Linked DNA regions of Homo sapiens: regions 2 and 3 are each linked to region 1. The links come from fine-mapping of genetic effects on gene expression. A gene starts in region 1. Each other region holds a variant in brackets. All regions are shown on one strand. Distances are from middle to middle.

The links. PIP is the estimated chance that this variant, and not a neighbour inherited with it, causes the effect. A credible set is the group of variants that fine-mapping cannot tell apart.
Region 2: its variant is the best candidate, but not a certain one, in a credible set for the expression of NAP1L1 in blood mononuclear cells (TOPMed, PIP 0.89).
Region 3: its variant is the best candidate, but not a certain one, in a credible set for the expression of NAP1L1 in whole blood (TOPMed, PIP 0.60).

Annotation. Positions count from the first base shown.
Region 1 is chr12:76,078,861-76,089,382 of GRCh38, reverse strand. It overlaps NAP1L1 (nucleosome assembly protein 1 like 1), which reads left to right and starts at 4,698. Exons shown (of 15, transcript NM_004537.7): 1 at 4,698-4,816. It overlaps LOC124902970 (a long non-coding RNA gene), which reads right to left and starts at 4,298. Exons shown (of 2, transcript XR_007063379.1): 1 at 4,216-4,298; 2 at 2,650-3,172. RefSeq lists silencers at 4,264-4,423, 4,864-4,943, 5,084-5,133, 5,204-5,263, 5,314-5,383 and an enhancer at 4,427-4,968.
Region 2 is chr12:76,149,338-76,159,859 of GRCh38, reverse strand. No RefSeq gene overlaps it. Among named protein-coding and RNA genes, the nearest start is that of NAP1L1, 70 kb to the right of the region's middle. The variant C/T (reference allele first, on the strand shown) is at 5,517.
Region 3 is chr12:76,444,786-76,455,307 of GRCh38, reverse strand. OSBPL8 (oxysterol binding protein like 8) reads left to right here. Exons shown (of 24, transcript NM_020841.5): 4 at 4,320-4,457. Among named protein-coding and RNA genes, the nearest start is that of BBS10, 100 kb to the right of the region's middle. The variant G/C (reference allele first, on the strand shown) is at 5,213.

The DNA of each region.
Region 1 (10,522 bases):
AAAAGCCAGGCACAATGGCTCACTCCTATAATCCCAGCACTTTGGGAGGCCAAGGAGGGCGGATCACCTGAGGTCGGGAGTTTGAGACTAGCCTGACCAACGTGGAGAAACCCCGTCTCTACTAAAAATACAAAATTAGCCAGGCGTGGTGGTGCATGCCTGTAATCCCAGCTACTACTTGGGAGGCTGAGGCAGGAGAATCGCTTGAACCCCAGAGGTAGAGGTTGCAGTGAGCCGAGATCGCACCATTGCACTCCAGCCTGGTCAGCAAGAGCAAAACTACGTCTCAAAAAAAAAAAAGATTTTTTTTTTAAACAAAAAAACTATTAATCCTTTTTTTTGAATGTAGAGAGAAAAATGTAAGGCATCTTATCCATAATTTTCCACTTGGAATTTGATTACATTGCAGCTATAAATTAATTTGGGGAAAAGTAGAAAAAAAATCCAGATCTGAAACTAACGTAACTGTTATTTAAATGTATCTTGTGCAGTTTTTAGATGATAATTATTATTAGTTCCCTTGGATGTTTTACCTACAGATTAATTCAGAGGGAAGAAAATAAATACTGAGTACTTAAAGGGCAAGTCATTGCTCTGGGAACTTACATACATTTCTCTATTTCATGCTAATAAAGACACAGATTTTATTATAATTATTAATGCATTTTTCAGATAGGGAAGCTTGAAGATCAGAGTGGATAAGTACTTTTGCAAGGTCACAGTGTTGAAGGAGCCTATACCTGTCTGATGTTAAAGCCTATGCTTTTTTTTCTACTACATAGGGGCTGAAACACAGACACAAGCACAGGTAAAATACCATCTTTGTCATCAAATTTCTTGTTGATCTTCATAGTTCTTATCCAATATTGAGAAATGTTGACTATAATATTTTTGTGGTAATTGGTGTGGATTATTTCAGCTCAGGAAAATGTCTTTTAAAAGCTGTGACTAGATAGCTTTTAATAAAATATGTCACAAAAAGTGTCAGACACTATCAGAAGACTTCGGGGTAGTTCCTTAAACCTTTAAATAAAACAAAAATAAAAACAAAACTTCAGTAAGAGGTTAAAAATGGTTACCTTTTATTGAGCGGTCACTATATATGTCAGGCATTATGTTAAGCAACTTAAATGTGTTATTTAAAGTTTCACAGCTGAGCCAGGCACAGTGGCTTACACCTGTAATCCTAGCACTTTGGGAGGCCGAGGCGGGTGGATTGTCTGAGCTCAAGAGTTTGAGACCAGCCTGGGCATTGTGCAACCCCATCTCTACTAAAATACAAAAAAATTAGTGGGATGTGGTGGCGCGCACCTGCAGTCTCAGCTACTTGGGAGGCTGAGGCACAAGAATTGTTTGAACATGGGAGGCAGAGGTTGCAGTAAGCCGAGATTGCGCCACTGCACCTCAGCCTGGGTGACAGAGTGAGACTCTGTCTCCAAAAGTTTCACAGCTGGGCAAGGTGGCTCATGCCTGTAATCCCAACACTTTGGGAGGCTGAAGTGGGAGGATCTCTTGAGTCCAGGAGTTCAAGACCAGCCTGGGTAATATACCAAGATCCCTCTTGACTTAAAAAAAAAAAAATTTTTTTAAGTTTCACAACAGCCCTATGAAAAATGCATGCTTATTTTCCCCATTTTACAGATGTGGAAAATGAAACCTGGGATGGCTAACTGACTTATCCAAAGTTACACAGCTATTAAGTGGTAGAAAAATGGGGACAAAATAGGCTGTTTGACTCCAAAGCCACCCCTCTAAGCCTCCAGGCTACAATGCTATAAAAGTCTACCAAATGAAAATCATGGGAGATAGAGAAAAAAGGACCTTTAATTTTAGTATATATGCTTCCAAAGAGAGCATGAGAAAAGGAACTGCAACAGAAAATTTCGCATGGCCCAAGATCAGTGACCAGGGTCACCATTTATTGCAATTAAGTTAGATGAGTTAACTACATTGTGTGATTTGGGGGTATAAGAGGGGCCAATGTAAAAAGCTCAAAGGTGGCCGGATGCAGAGGCTCACACCTGTAACCCCGGCACTTTGGGAGGCTGAGGCAGGCGGATCATTTGAGGTCAGGAGCTCGAGACCAGACTGACCAGCATGGTGAAACCCCATCTCTACTAAAAACACAAAAAAACTAGCTGGGCGTGGTTGCGCCTGCCTGTAGTCACAGCTAATCGGGAGGCTGAGGCAGGACAATTGCTTGAAACCGGGAGGCAGAAGTTGCAGTGAGCCGAGATCGCGCCACTGCACTCCAGCCTGGGCAACAGAGTGAGACTCCGTCGAAAAAAAAAAAAAAAAAAAGCTCAAAGGTATCTTCAGGTCAGTCACCTCCTACCCCTTTTCTCATTTTATTTTCTTTATAGCATTCACTTATCAATTATTTATTATTGATAAGTGAAATTGTTTTATTACTAATATTTTATTAGTAAAATTATTTTATCTCTAATCATTTGCCTCACCTCACTAGACCATAACTTCAATAAAATCAAGAACCGTGTCTTTCTTACTAAATGCTGTATTTCCAGAGTCCGAAGTTGTGCCTGACATAAATATTTGTTGAATGAATGCATAAATGTCTGCCCTTCCCTGAACTTTAATGGCAAAGACTTAGATTTACAAACTGGTTCAAAAGACTATATTACAAAGGCATGCATTATTAGAAATATTTTATTGTTTAGTTTCTTAGATTGGCTAGGATACACTGAAAAAAGAAGAGGAAGCTGGAGAAAAGGGGGAAAGAGCATATGTACTGGTAATGATAACACCTAAGTTATAGGGGTTGGTGGGGGGGTGGTGAAACCTAAAAAATCCAGAGCCTTCATGAGCGAAGTGCCGAAAATTGATGAGGCTCTCTGGTGTGGGATAAAAACCACCACAAAAGCTAACTTCTCAATTTTGTCTCAGAAATTCTGCTACCATAAAGATTTATGGAAAGAAAGTGAAAGTTATTTAGTTCATTTTAATATGCTAATTACCTTGCATCGTGCACAGCTTTGATTAAAATGCAACATTCCTGAAGTTCTTATTGAAATTAATGTGTCAAATTTATGTTCAAACTGAGCACTGGTCTACCTTGTTTATGTATAGTGGGTTCTTCCTGAAGATCCATTATTGATGCTATTATGCTCCTTGTATCATTACATCATTGTTGAGAAGGGTGTACAGGAATAGGCTATGAGAACAACAAAGGAATTGTATATGAAAAACTAAAATGAATGAATAAACAGAGTCGTCTGCAGTATAGAGTGGGAAGGCAAATAATTTCAATGAGGTTCTGGAGGGCCAAGGAAAACATTGTATCCCCTAAAACGGAAGATAAAGTTGCTAAATGTGTGGATTACAATAGGGGATTCTAGGCAGTTTGAAGTTTCAATAAATGCAAGATTTAGAGAAGAGGTTCTCAAACTTTGTGGTCTTAGGATTCCTTTACACTCCTTTAAAAGTTGAGGACCCCAAAGAACTTTTATGTGCATTACTGATACTGATATTTATATCAGAAATTAAAAGTGAGAAATTTTAAGAGTATTTCATTTAAAAACAATAAAGCAATCAAATATTAACAAAAAATAATTTTTATATGAAAAATAACTACTCCCCCTTGCCCCCAAATCGAGTTTTTGCAAATCTCTTTAACGTCTGGTTTAACCGCAGATGACTGGATTCTCCTATCTGCTTCTATTTTCAGTCTGTTTCCTTATCACATGTCACGTAGCCTCCGGAAAACCCCACTGTACACTTGTGAGAGAATGAGAATGCAAAAGGCAGTCTTGACATTAATATGGAAATAGTTTTGACCTTCCCCATGAAAGGGTCTGGGGACCCTCAGACCATACTCTGAGAACAACTTTTTGAGTTAGTATTAGTCAATTCATCATCACTTGAAAATTAGCTATGAGGTTTTACAAGCCTGAGGATTTAATGTGATTTACTTTTTCAGAAAGATGAAACAACGGACGTACTGAGTGTCCTCATTATAACGCATCCAGAGAATGCACAAATATGCCATTTTCATCCGTCAAAAGAACTGAAGCCGAACTGACGGACTGTACATCAGTTACGAGGATGTGGCGGGGGGTTGGGGGGCAAAGGATGACGAGCACCCCCTAAAGGCGCGGAGACCCGCTGGCATAGGAGAAGCAAAACTGTCAGAAGAGGCCGCCGAAGTGGTCTAGAGGAAAAAACTGTTTTTCTTAGGCGGGGAAGGAAAACGGTTACCGGGGGCCGGCGAGTTGCAGGAATTAGGCCTTGACAGGGAGCGTCCGCCGTCTAGGCTGCGGCGAGCGAGGGACCAGGCGACTGGCGCCAGCCCTGAGCGTTCCCAGCACAACGCCGAAGGGGGCGGGGCGGGCCGGGCGCCGGGCACGCGGGCCAGGCCTTCCCCACAACTGATGGGGTTGAAATTTCCTTTCCGGCTCAGCAGGGAGAAAAGATATGGTGGGGTGCTTAACAGAGGAGGTTAGACACCGGCGGGAACCAGAGGAGCCCAAGCGCGGCGCCTGGGCCTCGGGGCTGCAGGAGTCCTCGGTGGGGGTATGGAGGTCGCCGGGGAAGGAGGACGGTTCAGTTGCTAGGCAACCCGGCCTGGACCCGCCTCTCGCTCGCGTTGCTGGGAGACTACAAGGCCGGGAGGAGGGCGGCGAAAGGGCCCTACGTGCTGACGCTAATTGTATATGAGCGCGAGCGGCGGGCTCTTGGGTCTTTTTTAGCGCCATCTGCTCGCGGCGCCGCCTCCTGCTCCTCCCGCTGCTGCTGCCGCTGCCGCCCTGAGTCACTGCCTGCGCAGCTCCGGCCGCCTGGCTCCCCATACTAGTCGCCGGTAACGGATGGGGGCCTGGAAGGGAAGGGGGAACGTGGTGTTGGCTGGGCGGCCTGCGCAGATGGGAGGGCCGGAGGGATGGAGGGACTGGGAGCCGGGAGTCGGGGCCGCTGGCCGCCCGTGGCCTCCGGGGTCGTCCTGTGAGGTCGGACAGGACCGCGGAGTCCGGACCCCGGAGCCTGAGAGGGGCCCCGGGGCCGACCAGCGCTTTTATCGGGGACGGCTGAGGCGACGTAGGGGTTGGCGCGGCCTGGAGGCCTAAGGTTCTCTGAGCTCCACCGTCTTTTCCGCGTGGACCGGAGCGAGGCCGCGGTGACGCCCGGGTGCCCTGAGACTCGGCTGCGCCGCGAGGACCGGGAGGCCCCCGGCGTACGGGCCGGGCCGAGTGCAGAGCCGGCCGCCTCTTGGACACCCCCCTGCTTTTCCCTCAAAAATAATACCAGGAGGGAGGCCGCTGGGAGATGAAAAGAACGGCGGAGGCTGCGAATTCCGACGGGAGGGAGGGGCTGTGGAGGGACGAGTCCCCGAGGCGGGGAGGGGGCGGGGGAGGCTGCGACGCTCCCGGGCTCTCCGCCCATTGGGGGCGGCCGCGCGGGGAGGGGAAACCCCCGGCGGCTTCGCTCCACACGTGGTAATGGGCTTCATGGCCACTGGCTGGGCCTGGTTGGAGACCCTTGCCCTCGGTCTGTGCTTACTTTGAAAGTTGTAGAGACGGTGGAATGTGAAAAGGAAGGGTAAGCGAGTAAGCCCTGTCCCTGGGTTTCAAACTCTTCCCTGCTTCTCTTTGGTCTTAATCTTTTTATTGGTACCAGAGATTGTGGATGTTAGCTGATGATAAGGAAGGGCCTCCACTGCTAGTATTTTAAAAAGTTAACGCGTATATAGCGCTTATATTAACTGTTATTAGCAAAAGGTTGTTATTGTGTTTCCCAGGTACTGTTAGATGGGTGTCTTGATCAGGGTTTTTTATTTGGGGAGTATTGATCCTGATCGATCTAAACCCCTAAACCAAGCTTGTCCAACCCGCGGCCCAGGACGGCTTTAAATGTGGCCCAACACAAATTCATGAGGTTTTTTTTTTTTTTTTTTTTTTGGAAAAAAAAGCTCATCAGCTAGTTAATGTATTTTACGTGTGGCCCAAGACAGTTCTAGTGTGGCCCAGGGAAGCCAAAAGATCGGACCACCCCTGCAAACGGTTCTTAGATGAAAATAAAATGTTTGGCCCTTTATGACTTTAATTGTTCTTGGCTGTCTTATAAATTAGTTCCTTTATTGAAGTCACTAGAATAAGATACTTAACGGTTTCCTTTTTAAGATGGGAGGTGGGATGGAATGAGGTGTTAGTATAAACTTTGCCAAGTTTGTAGCCTGCAACCTTGTCAATGAACCCTACTGCCCTAAAGATCTGGGGGATGGCAGTGTAGGGGGGCTGGGACTGAGGTCCCATCTGGGAAGGCTAGACTTTGAGAGTGCAAAAAGGATGAACCAGGCGCAGGATGTCCTCAAGGAGCCCGTATTTTAGACGGTCACTGATCAGTTTTGAAACAACTACATTTTAAAAATCTCACTGCTACATTTGAAGATATCCCACTGCTGCATTTTAAAATTTACACTGCTTGCCTGGTTTCACAAGAGCTGTAAAATGAAATTTGGCCTTTTGAAAATAGGTGGATTCAAAACATCTTTGGAAACGAGTATCTGGGTCCTCTTTTTTTGGTCAGCTTAAATTAATACTCCTATACTTTGGAAGTAATATACATTACCTTTGATTGAATAAGGGAAAAACCTTTTATGTATAGGGTACCATTTAAAAATCGAAGGGAAGTAAATGACTTTTACAGTTATTTTCAAGGCACTCTTGTGTTTCAAGCTTGTTTGAAGTTGCCCAAGTTTAAATAAATGGCCTAAATCTATAGTTTAGTTCTAAGAATACTGTCCTTTGGAGAATGTATGGAACTAAACCCTGGTAGGTGGACTTGGACATCTTCTGTCATAAAACCTGACTTTCATAGATTCTCCAAGTCAACATTATGTTAGTAAATAGAAATTTAAAAGTTTTCACTATACCAATTTGAATATCTTTCTAAATTTTATCTGCTACAAAGTGCCTATTTTTATATTAGGCCCATTGATTTGCAGAATTATAAAGCTAATACTGAATATGGTAAATTACTGCACTTGGCCTTTAATGAGATTTTTGAAACGAATACCTGTACCATAACTAATGTAATCCAAAATGCCATCTCATTTTATTCAGCTTGCTCCTGTTGGCTCCTGGTAAAACTGAGTTGATTCTAAATTCTCAAAATATATTCAAAACTAAGGGTCTTTTTGTAGAAGGGGCTAAAGAAGCAGTATCTGTTGGACTTCAAAGGTCTGAAGATGTCAAAATACAATATTTTATTCACTTCTTGGTTGTAAATTTGAAACAAAGGATTAGAGAGAATGACTCATCAATATCAAAATATTAATGATCAGTGTATTCAGATCTTCAAGTTTAATCAAACCTGTAATTGTGTTCTCAGTTTAGTCTTTGGGTAACTATCTAGCACCTGTATGGACATGTATCTTATGTCATGAGCAAAAGAGGCAAATTGGTTGCTTAGATGTAGAATGTTAAATTGTGATGAGAGCTATAAAGGAAGGAAAGGGTAAAGGGGTCAAAGAGTAATACAGCGTTTACACAAAGGAACCTGTTATAATTTGATGATTTTAAGTTCCATTTCAAACTAGTTTCATCTAAATAAGTTTTTGGGCAGAATAGGGGTTAGAAGGAGAGAGTTGTTACTTTACACCTATCCATATGTAAGTCGTTTAGCACAATGACTACAGAACATTAGAGTACATTAGTGGGCTTGCCATAGAAAATGGCTTCTATACCTTTGGTTACCAACTCTGCCTTTTACTTCCTGCATATTTGTATATATTTTTACTTATTCAGAAGTTTTGTACATTTTAATTTTTATTGGGAAACAGGGTTATATATATTTTTTCCTTGTGGAGACAGGCTCTTGCTGTGTTGCCCTGGCTGGTCTTAAATGCCTCACCTCAAGCGATTTTGCCTTGGCCTCCCAAAGTGCTGAGTGTATGGGTGTGAGCCACCACACCTGTCTAGAGTTATAATTTCAGTCTTGGAATTATTTTCTAAAGAGGGTACAGAAGAGCATAACAGGGATAAATAATGTAATAGGCAACACTGATTGATTATTCAGGCATTGTTTTAAATTCTGTGTGTATTATTAGCTCATTTAATTTACTTAGAGACAGGTAGCATCAACATTTTAACAAGGAAAAAAAATAGGTGTGGAGTGGTTAGATAACCCGTCCGTGGTTACGTACGTGAGCAGTGATAACTTATGATGAGATAATTTTTATCCTGGTTTTGAAAGAATGTTGACTTACACTGTTCTGCTATAAATCAGCATGAATATTAGTTCATTTTCTGTTGCTTAGAATACCTGAAACTGAGTAATTTATTTAAAAAAAAAGAATTTATTTCTTGCAGTTATAGAGGCTGAGAAATCCAAGATCGAGGGGACCCATGTGGTGAGAACCTTACTTGTGGAGACTCTGAAGGTTCCCAAGGCAGTACAGGGTATCACATGGGGAGGGGGCTGAGTGTGCTAACTGGGTAGCTTGGCTCTCCAGCTCCCCTGGTGGGAAACTGGGTAATTTATAAAGAAATACATTAATCCATGAATGGATTAATTCGTTTGTGAGGGTGGAGCCCTCATGATCCAATCACTTCTTAAAGACCCCCATCTCTCAGTGCTGCCACATAGGGGATTAAATTTCAACTTGAGTTTTAGAGGGGACAAATACTCAAACCATAGCAGCATGAAATTCAAAAGCACTCCACCTTGTATCCCACTGTGCTCTAGGGAAAAGCTGTATAGCAGTTATGGTCATGAAGTCTTCTTCCAGCATAGAATTTGTTTACATACACAGTCATGCATGGTTAATGATGGGGATGTGTTCTGGGGGAAATGCATCATTAAGCCATTTCATCCTTTTGTGAATGTCATAGAATGTATTTACACAAACCTAGATGGTACGGCCTAGTACATACCTGGGTTATATGGTATAGCCTGTTTGTTGTTCCTAGGCTACAAACCTGTATAGCATGTTGCTATGTTGAATACTGTAGGCAGTTTTAACTTTTTTAAAAATAAGTTGGAGTGTACTCTAACCACAAAAAGCATAGTATAGTAAATACATAAACCAATAAATCATTTATTGTCCTTATCAAGTATTATGTACTGTAAATAATTGTAAGTGCCATACTTTTATATGACTCTGCAGTAGGTTTGTTTATACCAGCATCACCACAAACATGAATAATGAATTGAGCTGTGACATTACTAGGCAATAGGAATGTTTCAGCTCCATTATAATCTTGTGGGATCACTGTTGTATATGCAGTCCTGTGTTGACTGAAACGTTATGTGACTGCAGTTGGGTAATGGTTTCTTAGCCTTATGTCAGCTCTATGTATCCAATTAGTTCAGTCAGTTGCCTCCCCTCTTCAGTGGAAGATTTTGTTTTTAGTTCAGTTTAGGAAGGAAGATTTCCTTTCAGGAGGCCAGGTGTGGTGGCTCACACCTGTAATCAATCACAGCACTTTGTGAGGCCAAGGCGGGAGCCCAGAATTTCCAGACCAGTCTAGGCGACATAGTGAGACACCCTGTCTTTACAAAAAAAATTAAAACAATATAGCTGAGTGTGGTGGAGAATGCATACCTGTAGTCCCAGCTACTCAGGAGGCTGAGGTGAGAGGATCACTTGAGCCTGTGAGGTCAAGGCTGCAGTGAGCTGTGATCACGCCACTGCACTATAGCCTGGGCAATAGAGCAAAGCCTTGTCTCCAAAAAAAAAAAAAAAATGCCTTCAAGCATGTTTTTAGGGTCAGTTATGTCTTTTGAGATCTTATACACACCATATATGTATGAACCTTTTATTATAAAGTGACCTTTTTATCTTAATGTTTTTCCTTGAAGTCTATTTTTTCCTGACATTAATACGTGATACCAACTCTGATTAGTGTTTTATTCTGAAACTGTCTTTTACATTACAGATTTTTTTTTAAGGAGGTATGTTGAAGTGCAGTGGCACGATCATAGCTCACTGTAACCTCAAACTCCTGGGTTCAAGTGATCTTCCTGCCTCAGTCTCCCGAGTAGCTAGGACTACAGCAGGCATGTTAATTTTTTGTAGAGATGATCTGTGTTGCCCAGGCTGGCCTTGAACTCCTGGCCTCAAGCGATCCTCCTGCCCCAGCCTTCCAAAGTGCTGAGACTATAGACGTGAGCTACCGCACATGGCCTCACCTTCATTCTTAAAAGATGTTTTGGTTGGGGATAGTATTTTAAGAGCCTTAGTTATTTTCAACATATTGAGGATTCTGTTGTCTTTTAGTGTCTTATTGAAGAGAAGACAGCTGTCAGTCTTTTTGTGCCTTTGAAGTTAATCTACCTTTTTTGTGTGTGCTTTTGAGATGAATTTGTTTTTGCTATCTTGCCTTTTTACTGATGTATCCGGAGCTGGATAAATATATGTGTGTGTGTGTGTGTGTATATATATATATGGATTCTTTATTTTATGGTTTTGATTTGTAGGGCTACTTGAATCTGTGGATTGGTGTCTTTCATCACTTAAGGAAATGGAAAATTATTGCGTATTAACTTCTTCAAATATTCTGTCCTCCTG
Region 2 (10,522 bases), 70 kb before region 1:
AGAGAATGACGTGTTTGTGGACCAGAAAAGAATTTGGTATCATTTAGGAAGAATGGAGGGACAGGAGACGGGAAAGGAGTTAAAGCTCCAATGTTTGTAACTTTGTCCCATGCTATACACTGTGTTTGTAGATACAATATAACAGATGCCAAACATTGTTCATTGCATCAGACCATAAAAATGTATAATACAGTCTTAAAGTTTTAAATGGCCTTTTTAAAATATGCTTTACAGCAACAGCTTAATTAAAAAGATAATGGTGCCTATGTTACATACTGGAAGTCGGGAAGTAATCAACTTGAAATAAACCAGTCTTTGTAGAATTATCTCAAATTTTAAATTATTTCAGTATATCAAAATCCAAGCATGGATATAACATGTGTTATGCCAACTGCAGAGGACTCTCAAAACCTCTTCCCTTAAAATTATAGAATAGCTTGGTGCCAACATTAGCATCCCCACTGCGATGAATTTACAAGGAGATGAAGTTACATTTGGGGATATCGATATTATAAGGACACCTATCAATCTGATGAATAGCTACAGACAATGTCTGTAGCCTGTCATAGAACAGCCCTCTGGTTTGCCAAAGAACCACTTAAAATGCATAAATGCATTCTTTGTGCTAATGGAACAGATCTCTTTCGTGGTTTCAAAGGAGAAGAGAGAAGAAACAGAGAGTGGATGGTTCTTGTTTCACTTACGGCTTCCAAACCAAGACTACCAAATGAGAAAGACAGCTTGCTCTCTGAGCAGCACCAAGCCAGAAAGGAAGGTTCAGACCACTACCCACTCTCCCTTCTCACTTCTAAATTACACCATGAAAGTGGAGACAATGAGGTGTGCATTCCAACGCACAGGCCTGTGGTTGGCTCTGGGTATGAATTCAGCAGTGTAGACTGCGGCTGTGTTCAGTGGGTCACCACACTCCCATAACTGACCACTAGTAGGCGTGAAAACTGAGGCAACCCAAGATCCTGTGGTGGAACAGTTAGTTGCTGCTTTCAGATTCAGTTTCTGGCTAGAATGTCACAGCATGAATCACCTTGGAGCAGATTCCTGATGGCACGAGAGCTATAAATTGAATGGTACGACACTTCGTGGCTTTCACTGGCTCTGACATTAGCAGAAACAGCTGAGTAATCAGACAAAAGGCAGTGGAAGAGGAAAACGGAAGAGAATTAATATTGAGCAGCTTCCCTCTTCTGGGCATAAACTAAGAGTCTTCACATGCGTTATGGAGACAGCGTGGTTCTTACAATTTTGCATCTACCTCTTGCTAGCTATGTACACTTGGACAAGCTCCTTAACCTCTGTGAACCACAGTTTCCTCATATCTACCTCCTGAGGTTGTGTTGGGAGAAAAAGAGAATCCATGTTTACATGACACATATATATGGTATATATTACATAGAGTATGTATACACAACATAGTATATATAATATATACACATTATATATATATACACATACTATATATGATATATATAGTACACAACCTAAAACCTATATATAAATATACACACACACACACACATCATGTTGGTTTCTCCATAATTGTGTGAGCCAATTCATTAAAATAAATCTCTCTCTAGTATATAATACATGTATTTAATGAACAAGTTCCTTAACTATATATAGAATATATTTTTATTAGGTTCCTCATATTTTATATATATAGAGAGAGAGAAAGAGAGAGAGAGAGAGAAAGAGATGGAGAGAGATCTATTTTAAGAAATTGGCTCACACAATTGTGGAGGCTAGAAAATCCAAAATCTGCAGGGTAGGCTGACAGGCTGGAGACCTAGGAAAGAGTTGTTGCAGTTGCGAGTCCGAATGCAGTCTAGCAGCAGATTCCCTTCTTCCTCGAGAGACCGCAGTCTTTTTCTACTAAGGCCTTTCCACTGATTGGATGAGGCCCACTGACATAATAGAGGGAATGGAGGGGGAATCTGCTTTACTCAAAGTTTGCTGATTTTGTGTGTGTGTGTGTGTGTGTGTGGTGGAGTCTCGCTCTGTCACCCAGGCTGGAGTGCAGTGATGTGATCTTGGCTCACTGCAGCCTCCGCCTCTCAGGTTCAAGCAATCTCCCACCTCAGCCTCCCAAGTAGCTGAGGCTAAGGGAGCCCACCAGTCTGGCTAATTTTTTAATTTTTTGTAGAGATGGGATCTCACTTTGTTGCCCAGACTTGTCTCGAATTCCTGGCCTCAACCAATTCTCTCACTTCGGCCTCCTTAAGTGCTGGGATTACAAACATGAGCCACTGTGCCTGGCCTAGATTCAGTATAATTTTAAAACCCACTGGGATTTGATGCATAGAGCACTTTAATCCAAAGAGTGAAAGTTGTTGGTTCTTACTACCTTTAGCTATAAAATAAGAAGCTGTTGGAACTGGAAACATACTTTAGAAATCCTTAATTTATCTTTGTCTCCCACCATTTATTTCACAGACAAGGAAACAGGAGCCCAAAGTTTAATCCAGAAAAGAGAATCAATAACTGGGCCAGAACCTGAACACAAATCTCCCAACACTAGTCCTTTGCCCCATGGTTATTTTTTCTTCTTGATCTACAAATAGAAACATAAACCGGATGTTGTACATCATCACAAAATAAACTAGAAACCATTGCATACACTAGAGTACTGTTCATCTGAGTAACATTCGGGCTACCTTGTAACATAGAATTGCCCAACATGCAGTTGCCGAGTTTATGGACAGAATAATCTGGGCTCACACTACAGTGCTCATTCCACACTTGAGCATCATAGAACAGTCCTTACCCAGTGTCCAAAGGCCTTCATTATCCCATTTTTGGTGTTTAGTGCCAATTCTTGTTAGCTGGAGGCAAATTACCTACAGATCCAGCAAAGAAAGAAGCCCATTTGGCAACTATTCACCCTTGTCAGATTTGAAGCTGTTCTGGGAAGGCATTTTAATTAGACAGTGGGTGAGCTGCCACATTTAGAAGCAGCTCTTAAATGGAAGCAGAGAATTTCAGGACCAACTGAAGTTCTTGGTGCTTGTGTTGCTTTACCACTTAAAAGACAACCAGTGGATTCTTCTCTAGTACTCCTTTAGTACTGCAGGCTTTGTAAGATTTGGAATGGTTGAATGACTTCTTAAGGCTCATTCCTTAATTCTCATTGCACCTCTGAGTGCGTGGTTTGCAGGCAGAACATGAATCCTTTGATCATTGTCTAATTAACTCAAGCTATGTACCAGATAAATGGTGACTGTTTTGATGATTATATTCAGTTTTTCCAGAAGTGCTCATTTCAGTGAAGGCCTTTACAATTCATGAATATTAAGTGGGGTTTTTGTGTACAATTAAAGCAATAAATCAATCATCACTGCAATGTTCCATATTTATTATCTTCTTGCTTACAAAAAAACTGAGCAGTAACTCACTTGAACTTCAGTGTCTCCATTTTATAGGGAGGAAAGAGCAACAGAAAAATATTATGTCACCCAGCTTGTGAGAGGCAAAGTAAGAACTCTAAGCCAGAACCCAGATCATATTGTAGCAATCATTCAAAAAAGAAATGACAGTTTTCATCTTCTGATTTGTGCTATACATTTTGGCAATATCCTTAATATCTTGTGAGTGAGAATCTACTAAAAGGAAGTTGCCCAGCTTAGATATGAAGAAGTGGAACATGGCATGCTATAGAACAAAGTACATTGGACTAGAGATTGAGATTTGAGTTCCGCCCTCAGCTCAACAAATGACAACTGCTGTGACCTTGAGCAAGTCACCACATTTTGCTGGGCCTCCAGTTCCTCATCTACAAAATGATGTCTTAGCATTAGGAAACTTTCATCACAAGAAACATTTTGCAAAATCCCAATGTGTAAAACAGATAACAGATAAGAGAGCTCTGGTGGAGGAGGGGCCGAGGGGCCCAAGACCTAACTTTTTTTTTTTTTTTTTTTTTTGAGACAGAGTCTTGCTCTGTTGCCCAGGCTGGATTGCAGTGGCGTGATCTCTAGTCACTGAAACCTCCACATCCCGGGTTCATGTGATTCTCCTGCCTCAGCCTCCCGAGAAGCTGGGATTACAAGCATGTGCCACCACGCCCAGCTAATTTTTGTATTTTTAGTAGAGATGGGGTTTCGCTATGTTGACCAGGCTGCTCTCAATCTCCTGACCTCAGGTGATCCACCCACCTTGGTCTCCCAAAGTGCTGGGATTACAGGAGTGAGCCACCATGCCTTGTCCTGGGCCTAACTTTTTGGTCTTGCTTTTCCACTTGGAATCAATAGTGGCCAAGGCCCCTTTATAAGCTTAGGGCACTGAACCACATTACTATAAATTCCCTCTCAATGTTTATGTTTTAACAGTTATTTCCTTTCTCCTAGGCTTTTCCAAAATGTGAGGCATATGGAAAATTCAGGCAACACCCTGTTACTTATTCATCACTTAAGCCATGTTTTGGCTCAGAAGATACCAAGCAAAGCTGAATATTACTGTATTTCAGAAAGGGGAGTATTTCTTCAGTGCTCATCTTGGGGGTCTTCATAAAAAATGATTGACAGCTGACAGCTAATGTCTATTTTCACTTCATTGCCTTATGGGAAGAGATAACCATGAGCAGGCCATTTGGGAAAGTGAGGAATATTATCTAAGAATCATGATCCACAGAACCTGTTCACGGGTGAGGAGAAAGGGACGAGGTAGGGGGAAAACATCCCTAGCACAACCAGATTCTCCCCCATTATAAACGAGGAAAGTAAAAAACAGGGTCATGCTGCATTAATGTCTAGGTTTATTAGACTTACTACTTTTCTGGGCACAGTGGTAGACTTACTACCTTTCTGTAGTCCCAGTGATTCAGGAGGGTGAGGCAGGAGGATTCCTTGAGGCCAGGAGTTTGAGATTAGCCTGGGCAACATAGACCCTGTCTCAGAAAAATCAAAAAGAATTACTACCTTCCTCACACTGAAGGATTCTCAAACATTATTACATGGAGAATGAGCTCTCTTTGTGACCGTTCTCTAGAGGTTTTGACTCACTACTCTCTGTCTCTCACCCAGGGATTGAGTCTCAGCTAAATCCCTTTTCCATCAGTCACCAAAGATGCCCATTCACTAAATTATGCATACATGTTTTTTTGCCCAGCGAGGCCAGATCTATTTGCTCTTATAGAAAAATAAAGCATTTTTGCTGTTTTCCTTTTGTTTCTGCAAGCTTTTAGTCCATGGTGACATCATGGAAGCTTAAAACTTGAGAAGCCTACTCTCACAGCCCATGGACAGCCTTTCCTCACCCCAACCCCATCTATAATCACCACACTTTGGTCCAACTGCAACTGCTCTGTGTGGCATCAAGTTCTACAGGTAATCTGAAACTAAAATCATGAAAGAAAAGTAGGATTTGTGTTGTCGAATGGGATTTTTTTTTTTCGACTTGCCTGATTTGCAACTCAATCAGCAGGTAAGGCTAAAATAAAATATACAATCCAGGCCAGGCGTGGTGGTGCATGCCTGCAATCCCAGCACTTTGGGAGGCTGAGG[C/T]GGGTGAATCACTTGAGGTCAGGAGTTTGAGACCAGCCTGGCCAATATGGTGAAGACCCGTCTCTACTAAAAATACAAAAATTAACTGGGCGCGGTGGTGAGTGCCTGTAATCCCAGTTACTTAGAAGGCTGAGGCAGGAGAATTGCTGGAACCTGGGAAGTGGAGGTTGCAGTGAGCCAAAATCACACCACTGCCCTCCAGCCTTGGTGACAGAGTGAGACTCAGTCTCAAAAAAAAAAGTGCATATATATATATATATATAAATTTATATATATATTATATATATACACACACACAATGGCGGATGCTTTGTCTATATTTCTAAAATGTTAAGCTTCATACAAACTATGTACTGGTGGTGAATTGCAAAAATGACTATAATTTTTTCCCATCTCTGTAAGCATACCTCTTTAAAATGTGAATTTGAAGCTCCTCCCACCAAGAGGTAGATTCTATTTCACCATACCTTGCGTCTGGGCTTGGCTGTGTGACTTGATTTAGAAAATGAGACTAGCAAATAAGAAGCAAGCAGAGACTTGCACATTATGCCTTGTTCTCTTTTGCTGTGGTTAGAACCCTGAGATCTCCATGTGGAGGAGCCCAAACTGGCATGCTGAAAGATGAAAGGAGAAAGTATGAAGTGTCCCTGCCAGCCAGCTCCTAACCAACAACCTGCCAACGGCCGGACATGTGAGCAAGGCCATCCTAGACCATCCAGCTTCCAGTCAAATCTCCAGCTGACCACAGACAATATAAGCAAGCCCAGCAAAGAACAGGAAAGCAAACCTAGAGAAAAGCTACACAACCAGCCTGCAGAATTATGAGTGAAATAAGTACTTGCTGTTTTAACCAGCTAAATTTGTTATGCAGCAATAGCTAGCTGATATTGCACTCAGTAAATAATTATTAATTCAGATTTCTCAGAATGAGTATGAAAATGAAAAAGTAATTATGTATATTTAGAACAAAGCAAAGAGAAATCTGCTAAATAGAATAGAAACTGGCAGACATAAGGCTGATTTTTCTTCTTGAATTAAAATAAATAAATAAATAAATGAAGCAATAGAGGCCAGGTGCAGTGGCTCATGCCTGTAATCCCAGCACTTTGGGAGGCCAAGGCGGGCACATCACCTGAGGTCGGGAGTTGGAGACCAGCCTGACCAACATGGAGAAACCCCATCTCTAATGAAAATATACAATTAGCCGGGCATGGTGGTGCATGCCTGTAATCCTAGCTACTCGGGAGGCTGAGGCAGGAGAATTGCTTGAACCCGGGAGGCGGAGGTTGAGGTGAGCCAAGACCATGCCATTGCACTCCAGCCTGGGCAACAAGAGGGAAACTCCGTCTAAAAAAAAAAAAAAACCAATAGAAACAAATTTGTAACTCAACTTTTATTTATTTATTTTTTGAGACAGGATCTCACTCTGCAGTGGTGTGAGCATGGCTCACTGCAGCTTCAACCTCCTGGGCTCAAGCAATCCTCCCACCTCAGCCTCCTGAGTAGCTAAGACTACAGGTAAGTGCCACCATGCTCAGCTAATTTTTTAATTTTTGTTGTTGTTGTTTCAGAGACAAGTTTTCACTATGTTGCCCAGGCTGGTCTCTAACTCCTGGACTCAAGCAATCCTCCCACCTCAGCCTCCCAAAGGGCTGGGATTACAGGCATGAGCCACCACACCTGGCCTGTAACTCAACTTTTGATTCACCTGCCACTCTGACCAGTTCTATGAATCTGCTGAGTTCATTCTGGGCCTCATTCAAAATAATACTGACTCCTTGCCGCATTGAAGTGTGGGGAGGACTAATAAACCTTTCTTTCTTGTTCAAAAAGAATCCTGGGATCCTTGAATGAGGTAGGAAAGACAGAGCATTATTGCTGACACAGAAGCACGTCAATGGTTTCTGCATTGATATGTAGCAACAGAGAAGCCTCTTTAGGAAAGGGATGGGCTGGTTCCGCAGCCAGGGATAGAAACTAGAGAAAGCAGTAGGTGGGTACAGGAAGTGCAGGGAGGCATATGAGTATGTGAATTTCAGACATGTTCCTATTTTTAGTGTTGGCTAGGCAGTATCTGTATTTTTGTCTGTTCAAACAGCATACCTTCTCAGGAAGGAGGATAAAAACATCGGTATATATAGGGAAGATAAAAACATAGGTTTAGCATTTGCAGCACAAATTGCAAACTTTTTAAAGATTTAACTTTTCCAGCAGCTTGTCTGCTAATACTTAATAGCCAAAGTATAGAATATAATAGTTTTGCTGAGACTAAAATATTTTACTGATTTGAAAAGACTTTCAAAGTCAGAAAAGCTTATAAAATAAATAAAATCTGTTTGTACATTTTAATAACTCAAGACTATGGTTTTTAGGGAAAAAAATTACTTTTTTCACCCAAAATCAAATTTCAGTGTTAAATGTCCCTCTATACAGTCTGCACCAATAAGTCCCAAACTCTGATTACTAGCGTTCCTAAGGCACTTTTCAAAAATTTCTCTAGCGACCTCAGCCTCACTTATGGATATTCTGACCAAGTGGAACATAGGACTCTATTTTCTTTCTTCCTTTTTTTCTTTTCTTTTTTTTTTTTGAGACAGAGTTTCGCTCTTGTTGCCCAAGCTGGAGTGCAGTGGTGCAATCTCGGCTCACTGCAACCTCCAACCTCCCTCTGCCTCCCAGGTTCAAGCGATTCTCCTGCCTCAGCCTCCTGAGTAGCTGGGATTATAGGTGCCCGCCACCATGCCTGGCTAATTTTTTTTTTTTTAATTTTAATAGAGACAGGGTTTCACCATATTGGTCAGGCTGGTTTCGAACACCTGCCTCGGCCTCCCAAAGTGCTAGGATTACAGGGGTGTGCCACCGCACCCATCCAGGTCTCTATTTTCAAAAAGGTGACTCTGTTGATGAGCCAATTTTGGAAATCATTATCAGTAAAACGCTGTCCATGAACATAATTAATCTGATTGTCTTTTCTGTAGTCATAATAGAGATTCATTTCAAAACATTTCTTTTTTACAACCTTACACAAATGCCTACTCACTGTTAGCAACTGGACTATTTCTGAAACAAATATAGCAGTCTTTGATGAAAAATAAAAATGAGTACCTGTTGCAGAAGGAGTTATTTGGAGCAAGTACCTTTCTGGTGAATACTTGTACCAGACACATTCATTTGAGTGCACACATGTAGGTCAATTCCTAAGTGTAAATCTAACTACTAGGGGTGTCCAATCACCATTAGCATTGAGCTCCCAGCCTCTGACCCCCATCCAGCTCCTCTCCTTAGGAAAGGGGAGGGACTCTAACAGATTGATGAGCTTTGAAGAGGACACTGGCCATGTGGAGCCCCACTCCTTCCTTGCTGCTGCTTCTAGAAAGTTTCTGGCTGAAGCACATGCTCATTGTTCCTCTGTGCTCCCTGTTATTGTCTGGCCAGTGTGCCTCATCGTGCCAATATGTTTCTTGTTGGAATTCGGTATTATAAAACCACTTCCCTGCAGATAGCCACATTTTTCTTTATCAGATTTAGGAACCCTAATGGAGCTACTTCAGCCTCTACAGGAGGTAGGCAAGGGAAGAGTGTGGGTATGGGGCTCTCCTCAAATATACCAACATATCCCTGTGAAATTATTATTATTATTATTTGAGGTGGAGTCTCACTCTGTCACCCAGGCTGGAGTGCAGCAGCACAGTCTCGGCTCATTGCAACCTTGGCCTCCTCGGTTCAAGCAATTCTCCTCCCCAGTAGCTGGGATTACAGGTGCATGCCACCACATCCAGCTAATTTTTTGTATTTCTGGTAGAGACAGGGTTTACCATGTTGGACAGGCAGGCCTCGAACTCCTGACCCCAAAAGATCCGCCCGCCTTGGCCTGCCAAAGTGCTGGGGTTACAGGTGTGAGCCACCACACCTGGCCAAAATCTTTATTATTATTACTTATATTTTAGAGATGAGTAAATTAAGATTCAACAGATTATGTTTCTTTTCCAAGACCGCTCAAGCCATAAGAGATAACCCTGAGTCTTGCATACAGTTCTGCTGACTCTAAATAATATTGATTCATTAATGGTAACAAATATACTAATGTTAGATGTTAACAATGGGGAAGCTGGGTGCAGTATGTATGGGACCTAGCTATCTGTACAATTTTTTGCATTTTTCTGAAAATCTAAAACTGCTCTAAAAATAAAGTTTATTTCTAAAAAGGTTACATGTGCAATAAATGGCATCAGAAAAAGAATACATGTTTCTGGGCACTAAATAATAATATTTATTATTTTAAAAATAACACAACTATAAGTTTGAGTATGTCTCCATTACCTCATTTCCAGTTCTGGCAGAGTGCAAGGGTTACAAAGGCGCTAGAAGCAGACTTTGGTTGGAGTCACAGCTCTGTGACTCGATGCCAGTTACTCAACCTCTCTGAGCCTCAGCTTCTTCACCTGTAAAAAGGGGCCAATACCTGACAAATGCAATGGTTGAATTAATAAAATAATAGGGACTATGATAATAATAGTGTCCAGAATAATAAAAGTGCCTAGAACAGTGCTTGGCACAGACTTATTGCCTCATCCCCATTTGGATTCAATGCATCTGGAGTAGAACCAGGAGTCCACCTTTTAAATGCTCCTCCAGGTGATTTTGATGGTTTAGGTGTTATTAGTGAAGCCCAACCTCACCTGTAGGCATTGCAGTTGACCTGGCTGCCTGGACTATCAGAAGTTGGCTCACTGACTCTGCATTTCAAATCTCACCCTCCGCTGGAGATTTTCTTTCAAATTCCTCTGTAGGATTGTCATCTGGCACTGTTCTTTGTACCAAATAAAGATGTTGGCCAGTCCTGAGCTGAAGGAAATATCATATCAGCTCAGTTTGCTTCCTTATTCACCTTTCTCTGTTCTTCGACTGTGATTCCTGTAAATTCCAAAAGAGGAATTCTTTCCACAGTACTGGAGTTGCATTCTTGCAGCATATATTACAATTTTCAACATTATGACCATATAACA
Region 3 (10,522 bases), 370 kb before region 1:
ATCACTCAGCTTAAGAACTAGAATCTTCCATGTACCTTAGGTCTTTCTGCTGCTTTTTTTTTTTTTAGATAGAGTCTCGCTCTGTCGCCCAGACTGGAGTGCAGTGGTGCAATCTCGGCTCACTGCAAGCTCCGCCTCCCGGGTTCACGCCATTCTCTTGCCTCAGCCTCCGAAGTAGCTGGGACTACAGGTGCCCACCAACACGCCCAGCTAATTTTTTTTTTTTTTGTATTTTTTAGTGGAGACGAGGTTTCACCGTGTTAGCCAGGATGGTCTCAATCTCCTGACCTCGTGATCCACCAGCCTCGGCCTCCCAGAGTGCTGGGATTACAGGCTTGAGCCACCGCGCCCGGCCTCTGCTGCTTTTTTATCCCTGAGCCTGCCCCAAGAGGGCATGACTAGGTTGTATTTTTTTCTTTTTATTATTCTTTGCTTTTTAAAAAGTCTTTTTTTTATTGTTTTTTACTCATGTATGTATCACTAGATTTTGCTTGGTTTTCAATTTTAAAAGAATGGTGTCATGGTTTATATAATTTTCTAGGACTTGCTGTTTGTAGTTACCTTTTTTTTTTTTTTTTAATTTTTTAAAGAGACAGGGTCTTGCTCTGTTGCCCACACTAGGGTGCATTGGTGTTATCACAGCTTACTGCAGCTTTGAACACCTGGGCTCAAGTGATGCTCCCACCTCAGCCTCCCTAGTAGCTGGGACTACAGATGCCTGCTATGCTAGGATTACAGTGTGAGCTACCACGCCCAGCTAACTTTTTTTAATTTTTATTTCTTTTAGAGATAGGTCTTGCTATGTTGTCTAGGCTGGTCTTGAACTCCTGGCCTCAAGCAATCCTCCCACCTCAGCCTCCTGAGTAGCTGGGATTATAGATGCAAGCCGTTGTGCCTGGCTGTAATTAACATTTTACTTTTAATATTCAATCATGTCGTTTGTTATAGAACTAGATCATTCCTTTTTAGTGCTATATACTATTTCATTATATGGATATGCCAGAATTTATTAAAATTCATTTTTCAATTGATGAATATGTTGTTTGGTTTTTGCTATTATGAACAGTGTTGCTATGAACATTCTTATTCTTGTCTCTTGGTATATACCTGTAAAAGTTTTTCTAGATCCAAGAGTGGAATTGTTGGACCCACAGGGTATTCAGTTTTATATAAGAAGCTCACATTGTTTTCCAAAGTGCTTGTATCAACTTATACTCCATTAACAGTGCTTAAGACATCTCGATGATCCCATCCTCATCAGTATTTGGTATTATCAGACATTAATTTTTGTTAATTTTACTGAGTATAAAATATTTATTATTTTGATTTGTATTTGCCTCATTACTAAAAAAGGATGAACATCTTTTCATACATTTATTGCCCATTTGCATTTTTCTTTTGTGAATCACTGTTCAAGTCTTTGCCCTATTTTGCTATTATGATGTTCTTTTTCTAATGATTTATTGAAGTTTTTTTTTAAGAACATTCTAGGTACCAACCTTTTGTTAATTATGGGTGTTGCAAATATCTTATTTTGTGCCTTTTCAGTTTATGATACCTTTAAATAAATTTATACTTTTAATATTGAACTTACTGATTTTTTAATTTTTGGGTTAGTGCTTTTTTGTGTCTTTTTAAAGGAATCTCTGTCCCAAGTTTATGAAGATATTCTCTTATTCTAAAGATTTTCCAGTTTTGCTTTTTTACATTATGTCTGTAGTCTTCATAGAACTATTCTTTGTGTGTGGTAAGAAGTAGAGTTCTCTCTACTTTTCCAATATTGATGACCAGTTGATAACCTCATATTGTTAACTGAGTAATTTATTCTCCCTATTTCTGTTGTATATCTGAGCTCCATGTATGTATGTGTCTGTTTCTGAAAGCTATCTGCTATGTTCTTTAGGTCAATTTATCTCTCTGCATCAGTACCATACATTTAAAATTATTTTTAGGAATCAAATGAATCTTGGATTTAGTAACTGAAAGAGACACCATATACTTTATGATGTTTTATAAAAATATAAAGTTGGTTTATTGACTCATTCAACATAAATTTATTGAACATCTTTAGTATGGTAGGATGCGACACCTTCAATAGGGCAGGAAGTTTACCAGGACCTGAGAATTTATGGGAAAATAAGGCAGACAAAACTTCCTTCTCTCATGGAATTTAATGTCTAATGGAGGAAGAAAAGCAATAAACTATATTTTTCAGATAATGATAGGAGCTACAATGAAAATCATGTAAGGTAAAGTGATAATAGTATAACTGTGAAGTGGTGGGTACTAACCCTAAAAAAAAAAAAATGCCAAATTGTGCCATGTTGAAATTAAGAACGTATCAAAAGTACCATGAAGAAACCAAAGGGCTTTTCTGAAGAGATGACCTTTGAGCCCAGACAACAAAGGAGAGGAGCTAATAATGTGATGATCTGGGGTAGGAATATTCCAGGTAGAAAGAGCAAGAGATAAAAGCCCTGTGACTGGGCAAAAGATGGCCTTTCTTGAGGAAATACCAAGAAGACTATTACGGCAGGAGCCAAGTGAGTGACAGGAGAGTAGTAGAGAATGAGGTTGGAACAAGTAGCAGGCCAGACTGTGTTGAATTTCCAGGTTATGGATTATATTGTAAATGTAATGGGAAGCCAGTGAGGATATTTCTGCATACTGGAAATCTAATTTATGATTTTAAAAGATTGCTCAGTAAGAGAAAGAGAAAAATAAAAACACATCTAAGGTTTTGGCCTGAGAAAGTAGTGGGAGGGGAGTAGTGATGGCATGAACTGAGTTTGGGGAGAGGCAGGTTTGAAGGATGAGCAGAATCAAAAATTACATTCTAGATAAATTTGAGATGCCTGTAAATAATTAAGAGGTGATTATAAGGCAGGCAGTTGGGTATGTAAGTTTGAGTTTAGGGGGAGATAGGAAGTTGGGAGTCATCAGTCTATACATTTTTTTAATTGACTTGGAAAAATAATTTTTTATATTTTGGATGAAAAGTGCAAGTGTTTTTGTATTTTTACTTTGGAATCTAAGGAGCTGAAATAAAATTTTGAAAACTATCGCAACAGAAAACATTTTAAACCAATTAGATTTAAAGGACATGATGATAAAAAGGTGAATGTGAAATTCTGAATGTCTGTATTGAAAAATAAAACCTATGGTGGAGACTAAACCGTCTTTTTTTTTTGAGGTGGAGTTTCGCTCTTGTTGCCCAGGCTGGAGTGCAATGGCATGATCTCTGCTCACTGCAACCTCTGCCCCCCAGGTTCAAGCGATTCTCCTGCCTCAGCCTCCCTAGTAGTTGGGATTACAGGCGCGCCAACACGTCTGCCTAATTTTTGTATTTTTAGTAGAGACGGGGTTTCGCCACGTTGGCCAGGATGGTCTCGAACTCCTGGCCTCAGGTGATCCACCTACCTCGACTTCCCAAAGTGCTAGTAAATCGTCCTTTCTTAAGATGAAACTCGAGTTTTTATAGGCTGAAAGCACAGGAATATAAAATGAAAGAATGTGGAGATCCTCAGGTACTTTGGACTTGGCAGTTTGCCCTGTTTCTTCATTGAGTGTTTTCACTTTGTTTCTGCTCTCTGAAACTGGGCATGGCTCGCTATTACTGAGCGATAGATAGTAGGATGGCCAAATGGGTGAGAAGCAACTACAAAGCACTACTTAAATTGTTTATTGGGGCAGCAAGCTTTAAGAGACAGACTTTGGAACCAAATGGTTCTGAGTTAGAATCTTGCCTCTATTACTGTTTAGCCTCAGGCAAGGCAATCTCTGACCCTCAAGTTTCCTCCTCTCTAAAACAGTTATCATACCGACTTTTCGTGAAAATTAGAAATTAGAGTAGAAATTCTAGCGAATGTCAAATATTATTTTATACTGCTAGTAATTTGTAGTTTTTCTGATTACTAATGAGGCTGAGTATCTTTATATGTTTATCGACGATTTGTATTTTTTTTTTTGGGAAATGACTGGCTTTGGCTTATTTTGTTGGTAAATATAAAGAATAAATAGCACAATGAAAGGCACACAGTAAACCTTAGGCCTTTCATTATCAGTTGGATATGTATTTTCATTATTATAATGTCTATAATTTGTATATTTGACTCAAACATACCTGTCAGTTCTTCTTGGATCAGTAACAAACCAACATGAAAACAAGATGACTGTGAGAATTTATTAAAGTATTGAGTTGGTAAAATGAATATAACCACCAAGGCCATTTCAGTTTTGATCTTATTCCATGTTATTAACTATACTATTATGTAAATCTGTGACTTCAGTACTAATTATTTTTCCCTTCTTTCCTTGAGCTGTTGTAGCAAACAGTGACGAATCTCAGCTTCTGACACCAGGAAAGATGAGTCAGCGCCAAGGAAAAGAAGCTTATCCAACGCCAACCAAAGATTTGCATCAGCCATCTCTTAGTCCAGCAAGTCCTCATAGCCAGGGTAGGAAGTTGTGGTTTTCATGTTTTGTCTTGTTTTTGTTTTTGTTTTTGGAGGGGAGAAGGGGAGAATGACATTTGGGGACTATCATATTTTTTTTCTTTTTAACTATTTGGTTTTGTAAGGGGTTTTGTTTGTTTTGTTTAGGTCATCTATAATACTCTTGAAATGAGTACACTTTCCTTTAGACTTTTAATTTTTTTTAATATTCTCCAACATACTTCGTTAGTTATATCATTCATCTAATTTGGCGATTCTCACACTTTGTGGTCTCATGGTTCCTTTGTAGTCTTAAAAATTATTGAAGACTGTGAAGTGCTTTTGTTTATGTGAGTTATATCTATTTTATTATATTATAAATTAAAACTAGAAATTTAAAAATTTAATTCATTTAAAGTAATAAACCCATTACATGTTAATGTAAGTAACATTTTTATTAAGAACTACAGTGTTTTCTTTCCCTCTACTCCCCAAAAAGTTGATTGAGAAGGTTGGTAATGGTTTATCCCAGGACTTCTCAACCTTCGAACTATTTTCAGGACTTCTCAACCTTGGCACTGTTTTGGCCTGGAAAGTTCTTTGTTGTGGAGGGCTGTCCTATGCATTATATGATGTTTAGCAGTATCCCTGGCCTCTACCCAGAAAATGTCAATAGCAGTTACCCCAGTTGTGACAACCAGAAATGTTTCCAGATGTTGCCAAGTATCCCTTGAGGGACAAAACCATCCATGATTAAGAACTGCTTTTTGGCGGTTTTT[G/C]CAAATCACTTTAATGTCTAGCTTAAAAGACACCTGCATTTTTGTATCTGCTTCTGCAGTCTGTTGTGATGTGATGATCCGATTGAAGTATATGAATAAAATCTGGTCTCATGCATATATATATATGGGGGGGGTTTATACATAATTATAGATATTCTTTGATAATATGCCAAAACTTGACTAGTAGTAATTTTCTTTATGTTAATTGCAATCTGGAATCTGAAACGCTGTCAGTACACTTTTCATACTCTGTTAAAATTCACTCTTGAATTTTGAATGGCTCTTTACTCATGCATGATTTTGTAACATCATGCATTAGTCATTTGGAAAATATTTGCTCACTGAATTATGCAGATCTTCCAAGTGTTGACACATTAAAAAATATAGTACAGAGAAGGGCTTTATGTATGCTTCTCATTCTGTTGCACAGAATATTAAAATCTTACGTACTAAAGGTTCAAGAGCAATAATTTTTACTTCTTCATCAAGGACATCTGTAAGTGAAACTGTCATTCTTCTGTGAGTGCATGACTGAAGAATTCAGTGCCTACTACTCCAGTTTGGTGCCTCTGCCTTGATTTATGCTAAGTTGCCAGCAGTTTTACCCAAGATTGCTTTTGTGCCATCAATGAAAATGGCAACATAATGAAAAAGTATTATGAAACTAGTTTTCACCTTGCAGATCCTCTAGAAGGGTCTTTGGGTACTCCCAGAAGTTCAGGGATCACAGTTTCTAATTCATAATTGATAAGTTTTGTATAATGGATTCTGCTCCTCAGCTGAAGTTTATTTAATCAAATGTACGGAAATCTCCTGTGGTACTACTCATAGCTGTGGTGGAAGGACTTCTGCTTTTAAAACTGAGAAATGAAATTTGGTGTTTTGAAAGTTAATGTATACTTAGGTTATTGAGTATTTTTAAAAATTAAATTTAGAGTTCTGTCATACTTTGTAATTAGTCAGTTTTGATGTTGTAACTTTATGAATTATCTTTTGAAATTTGGCTTTAGTAACTTTTCAAATGAGTACTACCTTGTAAATAGTAAGTTACATGATCATTTTCTACTTTCTTTCTTTATTTTTTGAGACAGAGTCTTGCTCTGTCGCCAGGCTAGAGTGCAGTGGCGCGATCTCAGCTCACTGCAACCTCCATCTCCCGGGTTCAAGCGATTCTCCTGCCTCAGCCTCCTGAGTAGCTGGAATTACAGGCGCATGCCACCATGCCCAGCTAATTTTTGTGTTTTTAGTAGAGACGGGATTTCACCGTGTTGGCCAGGATGGTCTTGATCTCTTGACCTTGTGATCCGCCCACCTTGGCCTCCCAAAGTGCTGGGATTACAGGCGTGAGCCACCGCACCCATCCTCTACTTTATTTCAATAGAAAATGTTTATCTAGTCATATATTAGATGGAAACACTTTCATATAGCATGGTAGGAACTATAAAAATTTATGTAACAAGATGAAAATAATTACTATAACATATATTGCTTAGTTGTCGATTGTATTTTTGAAAAGTTAGCATTTTTGTTGCCAAAATGCTTTTTGGAAGACCTGAAAAACGATATATGATACACACTCTGGTATAAATAAGCTTCATTAAGATAAAATTCTGAAACAATGCAACTGACCTGGTTTTTTTTTGCACTGTGCATCAGAATTTTGGCTATAATAGATATGGTTTCTCTGATGCATGTATCTGTGCACTAGAATATTTAGAGGAATTCTTTAACTTAGGAGTTAATGAACCAACAAAAGGGTTAGTTACTAATAATTAAAACTACACTTGTTTATATTTATTATGAATGTTTTCAGGCAAACAGGGAAGTTAAAAAAAGAGTACAGTGAACACTAATATACCCATTGTATAGATGTAAGGAGTTATTAACCTTTTGTTTTGTTTGTTTCATTTATTTAGGGTACAGCGTGAATATTTAGAGTAAATTACAGACTTCATGACGTACCCCAAAATACTTAATGTGTCTCTAAAAAATGAGCACATTTTCTTATGTAACCATAAAACCTTTATTACATCTAACAAAACTGATGATAATTGCTTAACATAACCTAACACCTAGTCTATATTTAAATTTTGCCTAGTTTTCCCCAAATCTTTCTACAGTAGGCTTGCTGAAACCAAATAAAGTCCATACATCTTATTTGGTTATGTCATTACGTCCTTAATCCTAAAGAGTCTCCTTGTTTACTTTTGTTTTCTTTTGTGTCTTTGACGGTTTTAAGAAACTTGGCTGACCGGGTGCAGTGGCTCATGCCTGTAATCCCAGCACTTTGGGAGGCCAAGGCGGGTGGATTACCTGAGGTCAGGAGTTCGAGACCAGCCTGGCCAACATGGTGAAACCCCATCTCTACTTAAAAATACAAAAAAATTAGCCAGGCTTGGTGGCGGGCACCTGTAATCCTAGCTATTTGAGAGGCTGAGGCAGGGGAATCACTTGAACCTGGGAGGCAGAGGTTGCAGTGAGCCGAGATCGCGCCATTGCACTCCAGCCTGGGCAATAAGAGTGAAACTCCATCTCAGGAAAAAAAAAAATGGATCTAGGCCAGTGTCCTGTAGAGTGTTTGACTTTTTTAGATTGTTTGATTACATCTTTGCGGTATTACTTAATTTGTTTCTGTATCTTCTATATTTTCTGTAAACTAGAAGTTAAATGCAAAGGCTCGATTATATCTAGCTAGAGCATTTTTGGCAAGAATACTTTGTAGGGAGTGTGTAGTACTTCATGCTGCATCACATAAGAATTCACTTAATATCTGATTGTCCTGCTGCTAGTGATACAAGATTGGTAGATTTAGGTGAGGATAGCCTGATTCTCTTCATTGAAAGTTGCGTCTTTTCATTCTTTATGACTTGAAAGTGAAGATAAAGATGATATATTTGGCACCTTGCAAAAATCGTGTCCCCCATCAACTTTTTACTGAAAGATGTTTGAATCCTTTGATGATCATTAACTGAATCAGTTACAATATTAGGAGTTGAAAAATAGTGATTTTATAATTCTGTCATTCTTGTTATATGTGTTAATGAAATCTTTAAAGACAAGATCATCACTTAGGGTTACTTGGTAAATGTGAAATATAGTTAGTTCCTACAGAAAAGGTAGGCTGTGTGGGTATTTGTTTACTGCAAAGTATTAATTTTTTGATTGAAGGCGTAATGTGAAGTCTACTTCCAGTGGTGACAAATTCTTTTTGCCTTTTAAGTTTTTTTAATATCATGAGGAACTCATGGATTTTAATATATTCATTGTGTTTCAGTCATTGGTAAAGTGAAGATAATAGTATTTAGCACATAGGATTTTATTAAGGTTTAAAATGAATTAATATGTATATAAAGCCTAGCACCTGGTAGATGATAACCACACATGATCGCTGATATAATAATATTATTATCATTACTGTCATCAGTATTTTAAATAAAAAATGATTCCATTTGGGTTGAAGGCTGACATTTTAGGCTTTGCTATACTTCAGTATCTTTTAGAGGCTCATTTAGAACTTCTTTTAGTATGGATGGCCCATATATAACCCTCTAATTTAAAGCAGCCACGGTGTTAGTCATATCTTTATTTGCACTTAAATGTTCCTAGGTAAGTTTATGAATAAATTAATATTTTTAGAGTAAATTACATAGTAGATGTACTTCTTTAAAAGTCATTGGCTTTTTGTAAAGCAAAATACCTTCCTCTGGTTTATCCACTGAAATTCCATATCACAGTTTTCATGTGTAGGAGGTTTGTTTGAAATAAGATTATCTGTTAGCTTTTGGTCATGGTGAAGATTAACTGCTGGAGGAGATAAACCAATGTCCAGAAAACCTCTGATGTATCTGCCTTATCTCAAGTACTCATGATCAGCATTTTAGCTTCTGAATGGAAAGAATTAGAGTTCCAAAAGCTTATTGATAATATAGTGCATAACATTTAAAGGTCCTCATGTCTCTGAGGGCTTTTATATGCCTTAGCTCATGGAATTCTTACGAGGACTTTATGGTATATAAATCATTATTCCCCCCATTTTACAAATGAGGAAACTGAGCAGTTGGTAAGGTTTACAAGTCTACATAGTATGTAGTAGAGCTAAAATTTGAACTTAAACTCAGACTTTTTAAGTTCCAGTCAATTTTGTCATATTTTTGGAGGTTCAAATTTTTCAAACTTTGAGTCGAGTATTTTGATAGAATTCCATTATGTATACAATGCTTTGGAGATATATTTTTTGGGGGGTAGTACCTAGGAGTGCAATTGCTGAATCATGTGGTGAGTGTTTGTTTCACTTTATAAGAAATGGCCAAGCCATTTTCCAAAGTAGTTGGACCGTTCTTACATTCCTCTTAGGCAGTGTGTGAGCTGTCCAGTGGCTCTACATCCTTGATCTTTTTTATTTTAGTCATTCCAGTAGGTGTTTAGTGGTATATTGTGGTTTCAGTTTACATTTCCCTCATTACTGATGATGTTTGAGCATCTCATATGCTCATTGGCCATCTTTTACATCTTCTTTTTGCAAAGTATCATTTCATATGTTTGCCCATTTGAAAATTGTCTTGTTTGTATTATTATGTTTTAAAGGTTCTTTAATACATTTTAATATCATTTTGATAGCCATGTGTATTGAGAGTACTTTCTTCCAGTCTTGGCATGCTTTCTTATTTTCTTAATGCTTTCTTTCTAAGAGCAGATGTTTTTAATTTCATTGATGCCCAATTTATCAGTTTTTCCTATGATTCAAACTTTTTTCCTATTAAAGAAAGTTTTGCCTACTCTAAAGTTGCAAAGGATACTTTCTGTGTTTTCTTTTAGAAGTTATAAAGTGTCAAGGCTCTGATTTATCTCTTGATTTTTATTCTTACTTTTACCATCTTGGTTAGATCTCTATCATTTTATGCCTGCATTACTGAGTAGTACCACAGCCTCCTAACTGCTATTAGAACCTTGCCCTCCAACATACCAGTTCATCTTTCTTAACAAAACAACCAAACAGAAAATTATTTTTTACATACTTTGGTGAGATTATGATGGGTTCAGGGTTCTTATAGGTGTGTATTACCAGAGAACACATGGATCCTATGAAGTAGATCTCTGAGGGAAATAATATGAATAAAAGAGAAATATAAAATTTTAAGTGAAAGTACCACTTTTTATTATTAAAGCTTTTAACTATAAAAAAACTAATGAGATGGCTACATTTATGTCCCTCTCATTCTCAAAAAGGCAGTGGCTTACTGTTGCTTAGAGCAGTAGCACCTACATCTGGCTATATCTGAGTCACCTGGAAGCTTTGCTTAGATATAGATT